Homo sapiens: one gene and its partners. The protein of the gene in region 3 binds, or shares a complex with, the protein of the main gene of each other region. Each region holds a gene or a part of one and is shown on either strand. Other genes may lie near its edges.

Region 1 (7,000 bases), on a different chromosome or scaffold from region 3:
CTAGAAAACATTTAAGGCAGTTCACTGTAATGAGAAAATATAAAAATTAAACGGATTAGAAAACAAGACAAAAAGAACATTGAGATTAGGAAAAATAAAGGGAAGTCAGAAGTGGGGTGATCCTCAAAATGCAGGAGGATAAAGTCTAGTACATTAATTAACCAAGCTGTAAGTGACCTGTTTCTCCAGTAGGCCATTCTGAGAGGCAGGACCTCGTCTGCTCTGTGATCTAGTGTTCATGAGAGAAGGCAATCTTAGATGCCCAGGAAAAGCACTTTTTTTTTCTGATTTGAACTAGAGGAAAAGTTTATCATTGAGGTCTTTATAAATGAAAGCCAGTGTCATATCCTTAACCTCTTTTCAGCACTGAAGATCATAGAGCTGTTTTGTAGCACATCCCTTGCTAGGTAAAAGAAGGCTAAATCACAATTTAGAAAGACATTCTAAAGCCAGTAGAGGCTGGGTGTGGTAGCTCACACCTGTAATCAATCTTAGCACTTTGGGATGCTAAGGCAGGAGGATCACGTGAGCCCAGGAGTTTGCGACCATCCTAAGCAACACAGCAAGACATGATCTATACTACAGAATTTTTCAAATTAGCCAGGCGTGTGTGGTGGTGTGCACCTGTAGTCTCAGCTACTCATCTCTACTAAAAATTTTCTTAAATTAGCCAGGTGGAGTGGAACACACCTGTAGGTAGTCCCAGCTACTCAGGAGGCTGAGGCAGGAGGATCACTTGAGCCCAGGAGTTTGAGGTTGCAACGAGCCATGATTGCACCACTGCACTCCAGCCTGTCAACAGTGCTAGACCCTGTCTAAAAATAAATAAATAAAATCAATGGACAATGTGGTTTAGGTGGGTAGTGGGTAGCTCTGCTGATCTGGCTTGATTCAAATCAGGGTTTTTTGATTGAATATCTAGACCATAGAGGAAAGACAAACTACAACTTCTTCAGACAATCCTCTATAAACATGGTTTTTGTCAGCTGAGCTTTTGAAAAAATCAAGCTGAAATGAGTGGTATGTGTGATCCGTCAACAAGTATTTATTGCATACCTTCTAGGCACAATGCGAGGTCCTGGCTACTTTGCAGTGAACTAGACAGAGGAGGGCCCTGGCCCCTGCTTTGGGGAAAGAAGCCATAGTGTGCAATCAAATAAGTAAATAAGATAATTTCTGAAAAGGAATGTAATTAAGTTCTGAGAATGAACTTGATGGAATGAGGACAGAGAGTAATGGGGGAGGGCAGTGATACCTGACAGGTTCAACCACATGAAGAGCCCAGGAAAGTATTCCAGATAGAGACAACAACTAGTGCAAAGGCCCGAGGTGAAAACAAGCTCTGCACCCTTTAGAGGAAATAAGGAAAGCCACTGGGCTGGATCTAGGGACAGGACTGCATCCAGGTGGGCCAAGAGGAGTACGATGCAAAAGGAGGTAAAAGGGAGCTCAGGAGGAGCCTTGCAGGCTTTGGAAAGGAGACTGAATTGTCCTTTGTGGGCATTTAGAAATGATAGGAGGATTGTAAGCAGGAGAGTTAGTGATCCAATTCATCTTTTAGATCATTCTGAGTTGCATAAAAAATGGATTCTAGGAAGGCAAGAATGGAAACAGGGAGTCCAATGCAAAATATTCCAGATGAGAGAAATGTGGGCTTGGATTAGAGCGATGTTAGTGTGGAAGATAGAAGTGGATGCTCTTGATATCTCATTCATCCTCCTGGAAAGCTCTTGGAGGAGTACCAGTACCTGTCCATGGAGCTTACATAAGAGCCAATGTCTTTTACAAATTTGATGTGCCTGTATCACTGTCCCTTCATGTAATCCATTCCTCTGGGTCTGCGTATCCAGTTGGACTGGGAGCTCTTGAAGAAGCAGCCCTTTATTTCCTGCACTCAGTTTGAGGAACTGCCCTGCTTTAGAGTAGCTATAGCTACTAGACTGGATATTTTCACCACTACTGTCATGTTATAAGTGAAAAAGTAGAGGTCTTTGGAAGTTAGTGACTTGCAGTCACACAGGTAGTTTGTGACAAAGCCATTTTCTCTCCTTCCCTTGTTGCCAACTCTAGCAGTCTGGCTAGCTGAAAAACAGTGTGGATGTTGTCACTGTTAATTTAAACTATGTTAACTGTATTTTGTATGTGTTAATTTAAAGGATGCTAAATATTGTTAGTACCCTGATAGAAATCATTTCAGAAGCACTTTTTGCACTACAGAGAACATTAGGTGATATATTGATATGCCAGAGCAACAGATGAGAGATGGAGAAAGGGGTTGGGGTGGAATGTGGCTCTACATTCTATTTAATAAAGCTTGCTGGTTTTGACGGTAGCTTTTTTTTTTAACTTAGAAAAATGTAATGCATGAATATGTACTTGTTGCAATGTGAAATAATGGTTTTTAATATGCCTACGAATAATATGACAGAATAATGGAGCTGCATTATGACTTTCTAATAATGTAATTGTATATATTTTTCTGTGAATGCAGAGGTGAGTAGTAACTCATCTGTGAAAGGAAGATAATAGTACACACTTTGTAGAGTTGTTTCAAGGATGAAACATGATAATATATGTAAAGCACTTTGAAGTTGAGTGACCATTTAATTTATTGTGTAAACCAGGACACTTTTCAGAGTGAAAAGAAACAAATGGGTTGTGTGGTCACCAACTAGGGTGGTATAAATGCTGTGCAAGTGTTTGCTGCTGCTGTTATTCCTATTTCAATTGCTGATCCAATGTTAATTAGACATTTGTGGGCACAGGGTTCTTTTGTTTTTGGGTTTTTTTTTCATTAGTGCCATTGCATTTGCCCACTTTCTTCCATCTTCTGTGGCCCCAACACAGGGATAACTGCTGCAGTTCAACTATGAAATGATGTTTCTTTAGCCAAGATAATTGGTTTTTCAAAGCAAGATGGACATTTCACCTTGACTTTATTAGCACTATACTACTCTAAACATTTAAATAGAGAGAAAAGACAAAGGACCTCAACATGATGTTTTGCATTTATTTTCCTTTTAAAATTTTAAATTTAATTTTGGTGCACGTAATTTACCTTGGCATCAGCAATTTATGTAGACCAGTCAGAAGTATCTTAGGAGAGGTTAATATCTACATGGAGGAATCAAACCATCTTATTGTTCCTTCCACCCACCTTTTATGTGTCTCCTTAATATTGTTGACCTTAAAAATTGTTTTAATGGCTTTGAGCTTTTTGAAAGGAGGGACCAGGTGTTATTTTACCATAAGGAATGTAACACAATGGGCTAATATGTGTGATTCATCTTAATAACATGAGCTGTGGTGGTCTAACGATAAATCTTACAGGAATCTGCATGAACATTTTTTTTACATGGCCTTAGTCTCTCTTCTTGTTCATTTAAAGTAGGTCAAATCAAGCCAGTTTTCTTTGTTGTTGTTAACATATCATAGCTTTATTCAGTAACGGAGTAGAATTTTTAATACAGAGAAAATGAAGTACCTGAGAATGATAAATAAGTTTACCACCCAGTTAACCACTGTTACTACTTCATAAAAAAAGTACTACATGTCAGTAAATTCAAGAAGAAATGCACAATATGAAAAATGAAAACCTTCCCCTCTTTACCTTCCGTAATAATTCCTCTCCCAGAATGATTTTTAATGCCTCTAAAAGGTAAAAGTATCTTCTCTGGAGCCTGACTCCTGAGTTTGAGTTCCATTTCTATTCCTTACTTCCTGTGACATTTAATTTTTGGCAAGATGCTTTTTCATTGGTAAAATAGGGATAAGAATATCTATAATGAGGCCGGGCAAGGTGGCTCACGCCTGTAATCCCAGCACTTGGGGAGGCCGAGGCGGGTAGGTCACGAGGTCAGGCGTTCAAGACCATCCTGGCTAACACGGTGAAACCCCGTCTCTACTAAAAATACAAAAGAATTAGCTGGGCGTGGTAGCGGGCGCCTGTAGTCCCAGCTACTTGGGAGGCTGAGGCAGTAGAGTGGCATGAACCTGGGAGGCGGAGCTTGCAGTGAGCCGAGATAGCGCCACGCACTCCAGCCTGGGCAACAGTGCAAGACTCTGTCTAAAAAAAAAAAAAATCTATAATGCTGTTGTGTAGATTAAGTGTGTTTATATGTGAAAAGCATCTAAAGCAGTCCTTAGCATATTTAAGTGTTACGTATCTGCTGGCTAGTATACCAGTGGGTATATATGCTTGAAAATTTTATACAGTCATTTACACACTGGTCTGTATTCAACTTCTGTGTACCCATAAAATTTTTTTTAAGTGATATAGTAGGTGCGTATATTTATGGGGTACATGAGATATTTTGATACATGCATACAATGCAAAATAATCACAGCAGGGTAGATAGGATATCCATTGTCTTCAAGCATTTATCATTTGTTATAAACATTCTAGTTATGCTCTTTTAGTTGGTATAAAATGTGCAATAAATTATTGTTGACTATAATCATCCTATTGTGCTATCAAATACTAGATCCTATTCACTCTATGTTTTTGTACTAATTAAGCATCCCCGCCCCTCCCCTGCCACCACACACCCCACAGCTCTTCCCAGCCTCTCGTAACCATCTCTATTTTCTACCTCCATGAGTTCAGTTGTTTCAATTTTTAGCTTATCATGGAGCTCTTTTGAATATAAATCTACCTTATTCTTTTATATCAGTGTGTATAGTCTATTAATTTTTTAGACAGATCCTCTATTGGCATTTAGTTTGTTTTCAGTTTTTTACTCTTCCAAACAGTGTTACAATGGAGATATTTGCATAGATATATTCGCGTACTTGTGGGAATAATTTCTAAAAGATAAGTCAAAAGGTATATGTGTCTTTAATTTTGGTATATCTTGCTGTAATGCCTTAGTAGCTAGCTGTTTTCCCCACTATAATCCTGTCTGAAATTGTTATCCCTTCCTGTGGCTTTCAGTTTGGTACCTACCAAATTTTTTGCCAAACTGCATTTAGAAAGGAAATGCTAATCCTCACTGGTAGATCACAGGATTACTAGTTCACAAAGGCAGGTGAGATTGCAGCCTTCCCTCAAAGGGAACCACATTTGACCTGCAATTTAGCCTTAGCAAGGAGTTACATAACAATGATGCTATTGCCTCTGGTTGTCAAGCCTTGACCTGTCTCTGAAGTTGTTTTGTAATCAAGGTTTTAATGGCAAATATAGGGAAAGAACAATTATGAATTTTGAAAACGTTAGTCTGGGTTTATGAGAAACTCCCTTTTATGCTAAAATGAGAGCACAGCTAAAATGGCTGTGTCATCTGACCAGAGGCCTAGAAATCTAGAGTTGCTCTAGTAACTGTAAAGGAGTCATTTCTTCCTGCCTCTATGTTTATGAAACATAGAGTTTTAAGATCTAAGGACTTTTTGAGGCTTATTTGGTGTCTTGAATAATTTTATATTTCTTCTGGCTATATGTTGGCATATATGTATCCCATTTTGCAAGTAAATATTTACATTTCAGCATAAATGTGTCATTACTGATTTTAAACTGATTTTGAAAGATATTTTGTATGTGCAATTATGGTATAACGAAATCCAGTAGGAAGTCATAAGTTCTAGAATTGTGATAATAGTCTACTGTTAAACCAATCCTGTTTTTTTATGTTTTCAGTGGTTAACATTTAGGCATATTGGATATGAGGCATTTTGATGAGCAAATATGTATCTCATGCCCCTGCCTCATAGACAGTATACTCTAGACAATGTGTGGTCATATTACTCACTAATTAATACGTGAAGTTAATTGCTGCCTCCTTTTCTTTCTTTTTTTTTTTTTTGAGACGGAGTCTCGCTCTGTCGCCCAGGCTGGAGTGCAGTGGCGGGATCTCGGCTCACTGCAAGCTCCGCCTCCCGGGTTCACGCCATTCTCCTGCCTCAGCCTCCCAAGTAGCTGGGACTACAGGCGCCCGCCACTACGCCCGGCTAATTTTTTGTATTTTTAGTAGAGACGGGGTTTCAGCGTTTTAGCCGGGATGGTCTCGATCTCCTGACCTCGTGATCCGCCCGCCTCGGCCTCACAAAGTGCTGGGATTACAGGCGTGAGCCACCGCGCCCGGCCCTCCTTTTCTTGACTCAGATTCACACTCCACAGTCTTTCCAGGAGCTAGATGGATGGTATTATCCAGCCATTGTCCTACAAGCCTAAAGCCAGGTGGAAAACCACCATCCTCACAGCAGGTGTCAAGTATTTTGGTTTAGAAACTCTTTCCAGATGATGTTCATCCTCATAGTAAAGAAAGTAATTATGACAAGGAGTGATGTTGATAACATAAAAAAAATAACAAAAAATCTGCTAAGCCATCTTTACTGTTTTTACAGGATAGACCAAAGCCCAGCAGAATTACTAATATAAGCATTCAAACTGCTTACAGAGGGTTTCAAGCATGATAATTTGTGAAGTCAACATGTATAGTAAACAAAACATATTTTAAGTGTGTTCATTATGGAGCTAATTGATAAGATGTCATTAAAAATAATAATGCTCATGGCATTTGTGTTAGGAACTATCAGCAGCAGTCCATCTTTAAATTTAAAAAGAACAGAGGCTATTCTCAAACTGAGAGCTTACCTTTTTGTTTTATTCTGTTTCTGTTGGAGCTGTGCTCTGTACTTTATACATGTTATTTCAATAATTCTTGTCCACAGAGTTTTCTAGGCAGCAACTCTCTGTGCACAATTTCAGCTAGAAACGCCATGACCTTCCCAGTAAATTTGAGACAGAAGCAAATTTGTAAGGAATCCTAACTGGGCAAAACTTGATATGCATAAATGCCTAATATGTATCTACATAGATATATCTATAGATAAATCTTCAACATTTACTCTGACTTTTATAGGATGATACAAGTTGTGGATTAAATTTTTTTTTTTTTTTTTTGAGACGGAGTCTCGCTTTGTCACCCAGCCTGGAGTGCAGTGGCGCGACCTTGGCTCACTGCAAGCTCCACCTCCCGGGTTCACGCCATTCTCCTGCCTCAGC
Region 2 (7,414 bases), on a different chromosome or scaffold from region 3:
CCAGAACTTTCATCTACACATTTCCCCATTTGGTCTTCACAATACTCCTCTAACATACACTTTATTATCTCCATTTATAAAATCTATAAGATTTTATAGATGAAGGAAATAGGAGATAAGACGACAAGCCAAAGTGTCAAAGCTATGAAGTCACAGAGCTATGAAGTGGCGCAATCTCGGCTCACTGCAAGCTCCACCTCCTGGGTTCACGCCATTCTCTCGCCTCAGCCTCCCGAGTAGCTGGGACTACAGGCGCCTGCCACCACACCAGGCTAATTTTTTTGTATTTTTAGTAGAGACGGGGTTTCACCGTGTTAGCCAGGATGGTCTCGATCTCCTGACCTCGTGATCCGCCCGCCTCGGCCTCCCAAAGTGCTGGGATTACAGGCGTGAGCCACCGTGCCCGGCCAAGCCAAGATTTTAAACCCAGATTTGACCCCAAAGCCCCCTTTTCTCTTACACCAGCATTTCTCAACTCCAGCCATTCGCATGCCAACATCACAATTTTTGTCCTATCCATTAAACACTATACTTTTCTTTATTCAAGATTTTTCTTAAAATTGATTCAAAAAAGTTTACTTAAATAAATTTAGCAGCCAGCTGTGGAGGCTCAAGCCTGTAATTCCAGCACTTTGGGAGGCCAAGGTAGGCAGATCACTTGAGTCCAGGAGTTCAAGATCAGCCTGGGCAATATGGCAAAACCCGTCTCTACAAAAAATTAGCCAGGCATGGTGGCATGTGCCTGTAGTCCCAGCTACTCAGGAGGTTGAGGTGAGAGGATGGCTTGAGCCCAGGTGGAGGCTGCAGGGAGCCAATATTGTGCCACTGTACTCCATCCTGGGTAACAGGGCAAGACCCTGTCTCAAAAATAAAAATAAAATAAAATAAATAAAAATAAAATAAATTTAGCTTCAACTGAATAATAAATTCTATGTGCTAGTTCTTCTAGTAGACATTAAGATATTTGCAAAACTGGTTTTTAATGTTCACCCACGCATCACCTGAATCACTCATGGATCAGCAGCTGTATACTTGGGGAAAAACCACACCATTCCGCCTCCAGAGATAAGTCTTGTCAACAAAGTCCAGTGGCCCACACTGAACACATCAATTAAAAATCTCACCAACTTTTTCCATTCTAAAACGCATATTTTCTCACATTTTAGTATCTACACTGTATCTTAAAATGTATCAGAAAGCATTTCAAAATTTTGGGTGTATCACAGTTATTTACCAACTTTCTTTCCTAATGGAACATCTTACGATCAATGAAAACTCAGAGTCCCATACAATATCGGCCTCAATACTTACAACAGAGCCTATAAATGTACTGCACAACTTTCTCCCAGATCACCAAGACCATCCAAGTTTCAACCATTCTAACTCATCAGAATTTTCCAAATTCTCCATGCCTTTGCACATGCCGTTCCCTCCTGGAAATGTCCCATTCCCCACCCACAGCACCCTGACCACTCAACTCCTATGGCTACCCTAAAAGTTTGCTCAAATTTGGTGAGGCCTTCCCTGGCTCCCCTAGGCAGACTTTTGTTTTCATTTCTATTCTGGGTATCCACCTTGCAGACCTCTCCATTATAAAATGAACCATATCTTGCTATGTTATTTGTATATATATGTCTTCTCCCCGCAGGGGAGGTCCTTGGAGCTGGAAACTCTTATTCAGCTCAGGATGTCTCATACACAGCTGAGTGCCAAGCACAGAAAAGATATTCGGAAAATGGTTGTTGAATGAATCCAAACAGCTTATCTTCCTATTGCCCTCTCTCTGAATAGTCACCTTTAGTGTTCACAGTGGCAATGCATTTTGTAGTCCTCACATCCCAGATGCGAATGGTTTTATCTCCGGACGCCGTAACAAATAGGTCAGGATTACTTGGATGCCAACAAAGCTGGTCCACACTATCCCCATGTCCCCGATAATTGTTTTCTTTGACCTGAAAGAACAGAATCCAGATGTGACTTCACATAGATGTAACTGCCTCCGCATGTAACTTTATAAGCTTATTCAAACCAAAGTATGCTGGGACCAGTAAAGATCTGGGTAATTCAGAATCCAGTTCCTCCAAGCCCTTTCTCCCTTCTCTTCTCCGCAGGCCTTCTGAACTGTTTTTCTCAGCTTCCACACCTATGCCCTTACTTTTGTGCCCTCCCTGGCCTTCTCCTCCTTCCTGGTTTTCCACCCTTACTCTACCACCAACGTACCACCAACGTACCACCACCAACGTACCACCACCACCACCACCACCACCACCACAGCCCCTAGCCACTTCTTATCAGCACAGGATTCGACTCCAAACCAGTAAGGCTCCCATCGCAGCCCTGTCCCATCCACCCTCTCCTCACCTTCACCCGCCATCGCCAACCTCCTTACTTCCACACTCTTCACACGCCCCCAGTCTTCCTCTCCTCACCCCTCACGACCCCGTCACCCCCACACTCCACCTTCTCCCTACTCCCTCCTCATCTCCACACTCCCCCTTTCCCCTTCCCTCAAACCCACTCTCCTTTCACCCCCGCGGCTCCGTTCGCCCCCATTCGCTCTCCCACTACCGCACCTCACTTCACCACGGCCCCTCTCCCTAGCCTGAGCCGAGCCCCGGCAGCTCACCAACCGGTCCTTCTCCAGCAAGAAGACGCTGGCCGTCTTGTCGAAGGACCCCGAGGCTAGGCGACGCCCGTCGCAACTCCAGGCCACCGAGTGCACCTTGGCGCTGTGCGCCAGGAACTCGCGCGTCTTGCTGTGGCCCCGGAACAGCTCCTGCATCCCAAGCACGTAGCGCGACGGGCCGCTGCTCACTGAGCACCACGGGGCCATCGAGCCGGGGCCGCTCTGGCCCAACGCCGAGGGCCCCATGGCTGCAGCGGGGACCGCCATGCCGAGCTCCCCAGCTTCCAACTCACAACACTGCAGCAGCCTCCACGGCGCAGTCAGTCCTGGCGCCGCTGCCGCACGCATGCGCCCGGAAGAGCGACGGCCCCTCTGCGCAGGCGCGCTGTACCCCGCCCCGGAAGGGACTACAAATCCCGGTATGCAGCGCGTGCCCGCGTCTGCTTACTTAGTAATATTTGGTTCTTTTAACTCCAAATATGCTTCACACTTAACGATTCCGAGTTTTTTTAGTGTTCTTATTTCTCCCTTACCTATTCTTTGGTAGATATATGTGTATTCCTGTTTAATCGAATAAAAGAACCAACACTAACCTTCTAAACAGTTAACTCATCACCTTTCTTCTGGGGTTGTTCCGTAATCCCTAGTCCCCTCCCTTAAGAGCAGAAAGCTCTGGTCTTTTTGCTGGAGAAGGACCAGCTGGTGAGCTTGTCCCATGAAAAGGGCTAGCGGGTGTGGAGTGAGGGAAGAGGTGTTAAGAAGGGGTCTGGAGGTTTTGTTTTTTTTTTTTAAATAAAAATGGATTTTTTGTTTTTAAAAGGTAATGGCAGAGGCGTGTGAACCAGAGCAACTCTATCTTAAATAGGAACTGGGTAAAATGAGGCTTAAACCTACTGGGCTGCATTCCCAGACTGTTAAGGCATTCTAATCACAGGATGAAATAGGAGGTCAGCACAAAATACAGGTCATAAAGACCTTGATGATAAAACAGGTTGCAGTAAAGGAACCGGCCAAAACCCACCAAAACCAAAATGGCGATGAGAGTGACCTCTGGTCATCCTCACCTCTACACTCCCACCAGTGCCAGGACAGTTTGTAAATGCCATGGCAATGTCAGGAAGTTACCCTATACGGTCTAAAAAAGGGAGGCATGAATAATCCACCACTTGTTTAGCATATCATCAGGAAAAACCATAAAAATGCGCAACCAGCGGCCCTCGGGGCTGCTCTGTCTATGGAGTGGCCATTCTTTTATTCCCTTTACTTTCTTAATAAACTTGCTTTCACTTTGCACTGCGGACTTGCCCTGAATTCTTTCCTGAGTGAGATCCAAGAACCCACTCCTGGGGTCTGGATTGGGACCCTTTTCCTGTAACAGTATTACATGCACATGATTGTAAATATAAAAATAAAAGATATAGAGTGAAAAGTAAATGTCCACCTGCGTATCCACCCCACCTCTCATATCTCCCTTAAACCAGTGGCTTCTTGCTGGAGAAAAAAGGGGTGGTGAGCTGCCAGCGCCAGTCAAGGCCCTGGAGAAGAGCTGAGGGGGGAAGGTTTTGGTGGTGAGTAGTAGTGGTAAATGTGTTTAAAAACCCAATTTTTAAAAGGCAACACGTGCACTTGGTAACAAATGTAAAATGTATAAAAGGGAATAGATTGAAAAGCTTCCCTCCATCCTGTGTCCCCAAACTTCTCTTCTGAAAAAGTTAAATTTCTTGTGTGGCCTTCCAGAGACAGTGTAAGTAAGCACCTGGGCAAGGTAGATAGGTGTGTGCATAACCTCTCCCAACACACTGCCAAAAAGGTAGCATTCCTTACACAACTTGCTTCCTATGGTAAATATGTATAGGAAATCATTTCTTGTCAGAAAATGCAGACGTCTCATTCTTCTCAATGGTGGCAGTCTTTATATGAATATATAATATTCAACTGATCCCTTCATGAATTTGCTTTTAGAACAATATTAGAACAATATTGCAGTGAATATCCCTATACAACCTTCATTGTGCACATCTGCACTTTTTTATTTGGATATATATTGCCAAAACACCTATGAAGAGGTTTAATAATTTATACTTCCACCAGCAACATAAGAAAGTGTCAGAAGGTCCTAGGTACTAAATGAGTACACATATAAAGCATATGGCTCTCAGAAGGACCGTAGGAAATAAGGTCCCTATCTTTCCCCAATCTTTTCCCTACCCCATTGCAACCAGAAATTCTTGGAAACTACAAAGCTTTTCAGACTCCAAGAATACCACTGAAGTCTCTAAAATCTTGGAGTAGGAAACTATTTGGTGTCTAGTTTTCTTCCTTACCCCTCTTTTTCAGGAATCTTCATATATATATATATATTTAGATATTTTTCCTACATTTTCCCTGTATTTTGTATTTTTTTTTTTTTTTTTTTTTTTTTTTTGCTGCATACACTGAGGATTTACAAGTCCCTGCCAAGATACAAAAACTGAAGTAGAAAGAGGTAAAATGTCCTGGTCCAGGTCACATGACTATCATGTGACAGAGCAAAGGTTAGAACTCAGATGTTACTGACTCTAAAATCTACACTCTGATTCTCAGTATCTGAAATCACGTAAATGTGATTCTTTGTATTTCTGCATTCATTTTGTATTTTTGTATGTAATGTATATTTTTTATTTTTTAATTTTTTTTTGAGATGAAGTTTTGCTCCTATTGCCCAGGCTGGAGTGCAGTGCGATCTTGGCTCACTGCAACTTCCGCCTCCCAGGTTCAACCAAGTCTTCTGCCTCAGTCTCCCGAGTAGCTGGGATTACAAGCACCGCCACCATGCCTGGCTAATTTTTTGTATTTTCGGTTGAGATGGGGTTTCGCTATGCTGGCCAGGCTGGTCTCGAACTCCTGATGTCAGGTGATCCACCCGTCTCTGCCTCCCAAAGTGCTGGGATTACAGGCATGAGCCACCGCGCCCGGCCTGTAATGTATGTTTTTTACTTAATTTCCCCTTGTGTTCCTTTTCTATATTCTGTATACATGGATGTTAGAAACTCAGTTGTGATAAGTATATCCGACTGCTCTTGCCTGAGACAGAAACTGGTATAACATTTCAAGTTGGACTAGCACACATCTGGGGGCAATGTTGAGACTGAAGTCAGAGTCTCTCAAAGGGGAGATAAAATTGAGGGGAACAGAGTCATGGGCCATTTTTTAAAACTTTTTATTTGGAAAAATTCAAATTTACAGAAAAGTTGCAAGAATACTAAAAAGCACTGCTATTCCTGTGACACAGATTCACCAAATTGTAGCATTTTGTTCCACTTTTTTTCTTTTTTTAGTTTTATTTTTATTTATTTATTTTTTTGAGACACAGTCTTACTCTGTCACCCAGGCTGGAGTGCAGTGGCGCGATCTTGGCTCACTGCAACCTCCGCTTCCCAGGTTCAAGCGATTCTCATGTCTCAGCCACCTGAGTAGCTGGGATTACAGGCATGCACCCCCACACCCGCTAATTTTTTGTATGTTTTGTAGAAATGGAGTTTCTCCATGTTGGCCAGGCTGGTCTCAAACTCCTGGCCTCACCCGCCTTGGCCTCCCAAAGTGCTGAGATTACAGGCCTGAGTCACTGTGCCCAGCCTCCATTTGCTTTCTCTACATATATCTACGTTACTACTCTTTTGTCTAAACATTTGGCAATTGTGCATTAGTCCGTTCTCACATTGCTATAGGGAACTACCTGAGACTGGGTAATTTATAAAGAAAAGAGGTTTAATTGGGCCAGGCGCGGTGGCTCACACCTGTAATTCCAGCACTTTGGGAGGTCAAGGCGGGTGGATCACGAGGTCAGGAGTTCAAGACCAGCCTGGCCAAGATGATGAAACCTCGTCTCTACTTAAAATATAATAAAATTAGCCAGGCGTGGTGGCGGGCGCCTGTAGTCCCAGCTACTTGGAAGGCTGAGGCAGGAGAATGGCGTGAACCCGGGAGGCGGAGCTTGCAGTGAGCCTAGATTGCACCACTGCACTCCAGCCTGGGCTACAGAGCAAAAAGCTGTCTCAAAAAAAAAAAAAAAAAAAAAAGAGGTTTAATTGGCTCGTGGTTCCATAGGCTGTACAGGAAGCATGGCTGGGCACGTCTCAGGAAACAGAGAGACAGGGAGGTGCCACATACTTTTAAACAGCCAGATGTCATAAGAACTCAGTCACTGTAACGAGAACAGCAAGGGGGAAATTCGCTCCGATGATCCAGTCACCTCTCACCAGGCCCCTCCTCCAACACTGGGGTTTACAATTGGAAATTTTCTCAGGGACACAAATCCAAGACATATCACATTGTAAGTTGCATACATCTTACCCTTTACCCCTAAATATTTCAGTATTTCCTAAGAAATAGGATGTTCTGTTTCCTACCCCCAGTATAGTTATCGATGTTGGTAAATTGAACAGAAACATGGAATTTTATTTAATCTACTGTCTGTATTTCATTTGTGTCAATTTAGCCAGAAATGTTCTTTATAGCCCTTCTTTTCTTTCAGTACATGTTCCAGTCTAGAACCTCATACTATATTTAGTTATTATATGTCCTTAGTCTCCTTGAATCTATAAAGGTTCCCCAGCATTTCTGTGCCTATTATGACATCAACATTTTTGAAGAATGCAGTTGATGGACCGTTTTTACAGTTCCTTCTCTCACCTAGAAATTCTCTCTTAGGAGCTGATCAAAATCAAACTAAGAAATTTTTTACACATGTGAGTCTTGGGGACTTCAGGGTCATTCAAGGCAGAATCAGGCCATAAATAGTAATGCCAG
Region 3 (7,712 bases):
ACTCAGCTTTTTGAAAAGCTATTTTAGTCTCTCCCACCCTCGTGATGTCTCTCAGGATCCAAGTCAAGATAATTTGGAAACATGTTATTTCATCCTGAAACCCAAACTAGCTTGCACTTCACTCAGTAAGTATCATATAATGGGAGAGAAGAAAACAAGCCCTTGGTTATCAACTTTTCTTTCCTAACAGTTATTATTCCTTGGCAACTTCAAGGTCATAAGTTATGGAAGACCCAAGACACCTTTTAAGAGAACCAAAGCAAATATACACAGGGGCTTCAATAGTGTTTTTTTTCTGGACAGGTGTTGGGAGTTTTCCACTAAGCTCTAAACCAGAAGGCTCCCATGAGATTTAGTATTAACAGCAGCAACATCATTAAACTCTTTCCCAATCTGGGTCATGAGGTCACAAGACAAACATCAATAAATTTCAAAGGCAAGATTATCAATAAGAGCCAGTTAGTTAACTGATAATAATTCCATCTTGCTCTCTACCTTAAGCAAAAAAAGTCATCTCTGGTTCTCCACAGGCACCAAATGTGACATTGAATTTATTTGGTTTCAGAGCCAATGCCCAGCTCCAAGTCTCACCACCCTCTTAACTCTACTTCATCTTTGTATCTCTCTCTCTCTTCTATATTCTCATGTGACTCAAACCAGGATTTGGAGCTACAGGGTGGTATGTGGTGGTGATGGTGGTGGGACAGGGGCAGAGAAAGGCAAAACCCTAAACTGACCATTTTGGGGGGTATTTTCAACTATACAATTTAAATTTGCAAGAGCTTGGAGGAAGATGGCATATAATCTGGCTCTATAATATGCACTTGATTGATTCTTGGAAAAATCATGAGACTTTTGCACTACCAGCATGGTAATTTGAAAAATAAGCCAGTTTCAAATAACAAAACAAGACAAACAAAGAAGCCTGCCTATGACTTGAAGCTGTGCAGAAAGGTGGCTCTGAGTTTTTAAGGGAGGAAAGTAAGGGGGAGCTACTCTCTGAAGTTGGTAGCTGACTAACCTCTACCACCGATTCCGCCACGACCCATAGCTCCACGCCCTAGGCCCCCTCTCCCAGGACCTCCACGACCTCGAACACCACCTCTTCTTAAGCCCATTCGGGGAGCTACGGCTCGTCCACCTCGGAGCAGGTTTTGACCTTAGAGAGGAGGCATACAATGTATATGCAGGTAAATCCAAGAGACACAAAGTAGATTCTAACCAAAGGAAGGCGGTGAGGGTTAAATGAAGGTAATTCAGTTAGTTTTTAGGTTGGCTGGGGCAAGCTGCATACTGTGAACAGATTAAGCTACTCTTTATTCAATCAATTCAACAAGTCTGACCACAAATCCATTTTTGGAAGTTGGGAGTTAATTCAATTAGTAAGTACATACATTTAATAAATATCTACTGAATAATCAGATAGATGCCTAGCATTATGGTAAATTTAAAAATAAATGCTATGGTTCCTGATCTCAACAGATTCTTCTAGGGAACAAGAACTATACAGGGAACAGAGTAATAGTGCCCCAAATGAACATATATAGGTAAGTGCTGTGGGTCAACTTGTCCTCTTTTTCCAGCTGTATCAGTGTTTTACTAGCACCAGGAACAAAGAGATATAGGCCAAAAGACCTATAAATTTCTTATGTTTGACTTGTTTCTAGAACTTGAATGTGCTTTGATTCAAGCAACAGCAGGGTGTTTTAAAATGGAATGGAGATGACATGAATTACCTGTTGTTACGCAGGTCATAGCCTCTCACCATTGCACATTATCAGAAAAGGAATGGTATTGATAAAAGACATGCAGCACTATTAAAAATATGTGATTTCAGAAGTTATTATATTAATACAAATTCAGGCTTAAAGATGTTAAACAAACGTGTCCATAAGCAGCCCAAGAGAAAAGGGAAGGGAGTAGGGCCCGACAATTATCAGGGTACACAGCACTGACCTCGGAGTGACATCCCGCCCCTAAGTAGGGTTCTGGTGGCACGTCCCCCACGTAGTCCTCCTCTGGGCAAGCCTCTCTGGATTATGGGTAGGCCTCGTCCTCCGATTGCTCCCCTGGCCAGGGCCCCTATGGGTCGGCCTAACCGTGCCTGGATGTTACTCTTACCCAGGCGCTGCTTTAAGCTCTTCTGGAAGAAAAGGTGTTAGGGGATTGAGATCAAAAAAGCAATCCAACAGGATTTGGCAACTCAAAGTGCAGAGAAAAAGAAGCAAGTGAGATGCTGGTGTGAAGGGAGATAAACCTGTTGTGGGTGTCAAAAGGATCCCAAACCAGAAGCAAGCCTTTGCCTCAGAACATGTTATACAAGCAGCAGAATTTTGATCCAGAGCAGAAACTCCAAGAAGCTCAAGTGTGGTCCCATGAAATGGGCATCTCCACAAATTACCTCACTAGTTTGGCTACAGAAGTCATACACTGCCAGTTGAAACTTAAGTTTTCGTAAGAACATTCTATAGTTCAATCCTGGATTGTACTGCTTTTGAACTACAGGTTGACAATTATATGACTTGATTCATACCTGCCCATGGACTACCACTGTCTTCAAAGGCTTACTCAAACACCATAGGAAGTTCATCACACTCTGGGCAAAACTTAAATTACAAGTTCACTTGAGTTCTTGTGACTTAAGAACAAGATTGATTTCTCAAAAAGGCCCGTGTGCTCCATTTTTCCTCTGAGAATCTATTTCCAGACGGTCCACTTTTTACCTTAAGATGTAAATAAACACAAGAAAGTCAAATCTCCTTTCCTTACATTTCTTAAAAATCCCTAATTCCATGCCTGCACTTGCAAACAGCTCCTTTAAAACAATGATGACCTTAAATTAAAAATAAACATGTAACTCAAATGTATCTCCACAGTCAGCCAGCCAAACGTATGTTAGAATTATTCAGGTGATCACAAAACTCAGGGCCATATATAAGAACAAGGACACACTACAGAGATAGGGTATTTTTAAGAATCTGTTCTCAAAAGAAAACCATTAAGACTACATCTCAGAGAATTAAATTCCTTCAAAGGAAAAAGGGACAGCAATAGCCCTGAACACAACCAAGCTCCTAGTAAGCCTGGCTGTCCATAAAGCCATCAGTCAATCTGAAAGAAAATAAATTGTATAGCCCCTTCAGGCTTCACCCACAAGTGACTACCAACGTGTATGTGTGTGTTTTCTAATCAACCTCTCAAAAAGATGCTGTGAAGCATTATTAACTTTCTAGCACAAGATCATAAATTGCTTCTCATCAGTGGGGAAGGCTCCAAACATTATGCATCTAGCATAAGTAGGTGTAACCAACCGTAACGGCCTGTCCTGTTACTCCCGATTAACACACAATTATCAGGTTAGAACTGCATTCCACAAGTCTCTTGCGTTCAGTTATCCTGCATATATTAATTCTCCCAAGCTTTGTGCTTTAAAAGAACTGTACAGTGCTGGGAAGTTCTTTACCCATTCCAATCCTTAAGTGCCACCAATACCGGCCTTTAATATTAACAGGGAAGTTAAGGATGTCAACTATACCACTTAGTTTCCCTTCTAGAGGTGTGCTGTGTAAGGCAGCCTCTATAGCTACATGTGGCTATTTCAATTATTTTTATTTTGAGATACAGTCTCGCTCTGTTGCCCAGGCTGAAGTGCAGTGACACGATCTTGGCTCACTGCAACCTTCGTCTCCCAGGTTCAAACAATTCTCCTGCCTCAGCCTCCCGAGTAGCTGGGATTACAGGAGCTGTCATCACGCCTGGCTTATTTTTGGTGGAGACGGGGTCTTGTCATGTTGGCCAGGCTGGTCTTGAACTCCTGACCTCAGGTGATCCACCTGCCCAGGCCTCCCAAAGTGCTGGGATTACAAGTGTGAGCCACCATACCCAGCCTAAATTAAAAGCAAATTTTACTTATTTTCTTGAGACAGAGTCTCACTGTCACCCAAGCTGGAATGCAGTGGTGCCAACTCCACTCACCGCAACCTCCACTTCCTGGGTTCAAGAGATTCTCCTTAGCCTCTTGAGTAGCTGGGATTACAGGTATGCGCCACCATGCCCGGCTTTTTTTTTTTTTTAGTAGAGATGGGGTTTTGCCACATTGGCCAGGCTAGTCTCAAACTCCTGACCTCAAGTGATCCGCCTGCCTTGGCCTCCCAGAGTGCTGGGATTACAGGCCTGGCCTAAAATTAAATTAAAAAAAATTAAGCTCCTTAATTGCACTAGTCACATTTAAAGTTTTCAATAGCCACATGTGACTAGTGGCTACTGTACCGGAGAGCAAATACAGAACATTTCCATCATTGTAGAAAGTTCTGGCTGGGCACGGTAGCTCATGCCTGTAATCTGAACACTTTGGGATACTGAGGCAGGCAGATCACTTGAGGTCAGGAGTTCAAGACCAGTCTGGCCAACATGACAAAACTCCGTCTCTACTAAAAATACAAAAATTAGCCGGGTGTGGTGGCGGGCGCCTGTAGCTGAGACAGGAGAATCGCTTGAACCCGGGAGGCGGAGGCTGCAGTGAGTTGAGATTGCACCACTGCACTACAGCCTGGGTGACAGAGCAAGACTCCGTCTCAAAACAAACCAAACCAAACCAAACCAAAAACATAAAAAAATTCTATTTAATAGTACTACTCTGGATAGGGACTACTTCCTGCAGAGCCTATACTTAAAGCTTCTTGTTGAAAGGTCCTTTGGAATGATCTGTCAGAGATTCATCTTCAGCAACTTCCATTTACTCTTGGAAAATGGTGCCTTTTGCTGCTTTCCTGAGTCAGGGAGGAATCCAGTCACTCCAAGGCTTAAGGTAGCCGAAGCAGACACCCTTGTTTATTTTTGGTCAGTGAGCCCAATGGTTCAGGGTGGGGGTGTAAGGGTGTTATATTTAACTGCTGAATTTATGCATAGCCATGCAATGCTACCAAAGCCCTTACAGTTGCATGGCACTGCCCTCCAGACGCCCAGCCACAGCTTGGACATATCCTTCCACAGCCACTGTCCGGACTTGCATATAAATTCTATGAATAATAAAGAGCAGGTTTTATTTCAGGTCTGAATAGGATTATCTCTCACTGTAAATTTGAAAAAGAGAACCCCTAACTCAAATTACTCAGTATTCTTGCTCCACTTTACTGGTAAAACTTTAGGTGCTGTGGAAATGAGGGTCACTCTACTCTGTATATTTTAGCATTGAAAACCTTTGACTGCTGGGCGCGGTGGCTCAAGCCTGTAATCCCAGCACTTTGGGAGGCCGAGGCGGGTGGATCACGAGGTCAGGAGATCGAGACCATCCTGGCTAGTATGGTGAAACCCTGTCTCTATTAAATATACAAAAAAATTAGCTGGGTGTGGTGGCGGGCACCTTTAGTCCCAGCTGTTCGGGAGGCTGAGGCAGGAGAATGGTATGGACCCGGGAGGCGGAGCTTGCAGTGAGCCGAGATCGTGCCACTGCACTCCAGCCTGGGCGACAGAGCAAGACTCCGTCTAAAAAAAAAAAAAAAAAGAAAACCTTTGACTAAGGCCATGCAAACTCCCTGCACTATGGGAAAAAGAATAAAATTATTTCCCTGTTGGGTAAATCATTTAACAGAGAGTAAAGGATGCTGTGAGATTATCTAAAGCTGAAATAAAGTTTCTTTGTGGAATAAGCCATTAATCTATGTTAAGGGTTAAGGATCAGAAAACAAAAGATTAATACTCATTGGTAACAGAAACAGGCCACATAGATGGCAAACTCCCTAAAAGAGAAAGACAGTAAAAAGTTACTTATTGGTACCTGCCAAAATTGGAATTCTCTGAACTTCTCTTTCTTCCAGAGAAGTTTCAGCTTTTTGCCCTGAGCCACTTTGCAATCATCCATCACGTCCTGACAGCCTCAGTGGACTCCCTCACAGAGATCACCAGCTGCTTCTGGAGCATTAAGACCCATTCTCTCACCTGCTTAAGTTTTAATGCTGCCTGGACAGAGGGTCTATTCTCCATCTGCTGGGCCAGTCTTCTGTTTCTGGCACTGGCTAGCTGCTGTTGTTGCTGCATCGAAGCCCGAATATTCACTGGCGTCGGCTGTTTGTTCTTCAGCATATTAGTAAAGCTTCAAGGTCGAACAAAATGGATGTTTAAATAAAAGCTTTATTACAAACATTTATTGGCATTTTCATGGCTTGCTAGACCAGGAGCTCCAGATCCCACGAACTTTTAAGTAAAGTGGTACACTTAGATCAAGGCTGATGTGGGTTAAAGACTCCTCTGTTTCCACAAACTTGCAAGAATCAGAAACTTAGAAATGCAGCTAAGTGCAGCACATTCAACCAAAAGTGATAACGAGGGCTCAGGTAACGGCTTTTAGAGAGGTGGAAGGTATGAAAAACACGCAATAAGCAGATATGACAAGAGACAGAAGATATAGTTTCAAAGACAAATGAAGAAAGCCTAAACCTTGGGGGATCCGAGGTGCATTCTAAGGCCAAATATGAGGAAGGATTAGAGCACCTTCAAAGCTCACAGCAATGAACATACTCTCATAAATTACAGGAGTGTATCACATTTTAAAATATATGTCACTAACATGCAAACATAAATATTATGCAAACATAAATAATTAGCTTATCATAGCCAAAGAGATAAGGAGAGAAGCACATATGCCTCAGAAGAGGCAAAAATAGACATTAAGTAAATTTCAGTGGTCGAAAGTCAACTTAATGAAATCACTGATCAAAGGCATTCTTTTTTTTGAAACGGAGCCTCACTCTGTCCTCTGTTGCCCTGGCTGGAGTGCAGTGGCAGGATCTTGGCTCACTGCAACCTTCGCCTCACGGGTTCAAGTGATTCTCCTACCTCAGCCTCCTGAGTAGCTGGGATTATAGGCACACGCCACCACGCCCAGCTAATTTTTCTATTTTTAGTAGAGACAGGGTTTCACCATGTTGGGCAGGCTGATCTCAAACTCCTGACCTCGTGATCCGCCCGCCTCAGCCTGCCAAAGTGCTGGGATTACAGGCATGAGCCACCGCGCCTAAACAAAGGCACTCTTAATGAACAAAGTTGTCAGAGATAGAAACTGCCTTTGAATATCTTTACTTTTCTTAGTCTCCAATCATCACTTTTTCTGACTCCAAGTAGTTACTTTTCAAAGTTACATCAGTTTGATCATTTATGAGCCTGTGAAGAGACTCATTATTTCTGTCAAGGAAGTATAATGGAATGGAAGAGAAGAACACTTAACTGTAGAAGAATCCAAAACAAAACCAAACTAAAAGCAGAATGGAAAGAAAGTGAAATGGAGCAAAGCGAGTGCCTCTTACAAGGCCCAAGAATGACATTCAAGGGCCTTTGGACATATTCATGGCTTGCTACCTGCCTCTTACAGGCCAGACACAACACTGCTGGCCTTGGACTGGGCAGCAAGCCTACTGTAGCCAGGGTACCATGCTACCGTGCTGCACGACCCCAGTATCAACGTAAAAAAATGTGAAAAGGAAGAGTGTTAGGAGTCTTTTAAAATACATCCCACCAAATAAATACTTCAGACAGCTTAACATAAAAGTCTACTGATAAGGGGTTTTGAAACAACCGCCCAATTTGTTTTGTGTACCACATGAGATGCAACTAAGAACAGAGGTCTGTAGCCTTCTGTTGGTATTTAGCTTAAAATTGGCTTTGTGCATTGGACCCCAGGGCCAAGTTAAGTAATGTTTTCTTAGGAAGGAGTTGAA

Evidence for each region.
Region 1: CHTOP (region 3) and THOC7 share a complex: the UniProt entries of both Homo sapiens proteins name them as parts of the transcription/export (TREX) complex.
Region 2: CHTOP (region 3) and THOC3 share a complex: the UniProt entries of both Homo sapiens proteins name them as parts of the transcription/export (TREX) complex.

What each region holds. Positions count from the first base shown.
Region 1 is NC_000003.12:63,853,806-63,860,805, reverse strand, and holds part of THOC7 (THO complex subunit 7), read left to right. Parts: exon of another isoform or gene 1-161; intron 162-7,000. UniProt on the Homo sapiens protein: Component of the THO subcomplex of the TREX complex which is thought to couple mRNA transcription, processing and nuclear export, and which specifically associates with spliced mRNA and not with unspliced pre-mRNA.
Region 2 is NC_000005.10:175,965,316-175,972,729, forward strand, and holds the start of THOC3 (THO complex subunit 3), read right to left. Parts: upstream 3,001-7,414; 5' UTR 2,894-3,000; coding exon 2,627-2,893; intron 1,953-2,626; coding exon 1,796-1,952; intron 1-1,795. UniProt on the Homo sapiens protein: Component of the THO subcomplex of the TREX complex which is thought to couple mRNA transcription, processing and nuclear export, and which specifically associates with spliced mRNA and not with unspliced pre-mRNA.
Region 3 is NC_000001.11:153,636,674-153,644,385, reverse strand, and holds part of CHTOP (chromatin target of PRMT1 protein), read right to left. Parts: intron 6,092-7,712; coding exon 5,938-6,091; intron 2,144-5,937; coding exon of another isoform or gene 2,141-2,143; coding exon 1,957-2,140; intron 1,160-1,956; coding exon 1,022-1,159; intron 1-1,021. UniProt on the Homo sapiens protein: Plays an important role in the ligand-dependent activation of estrogen receptor target genes. May play a role in the silencing of fetal globin genes.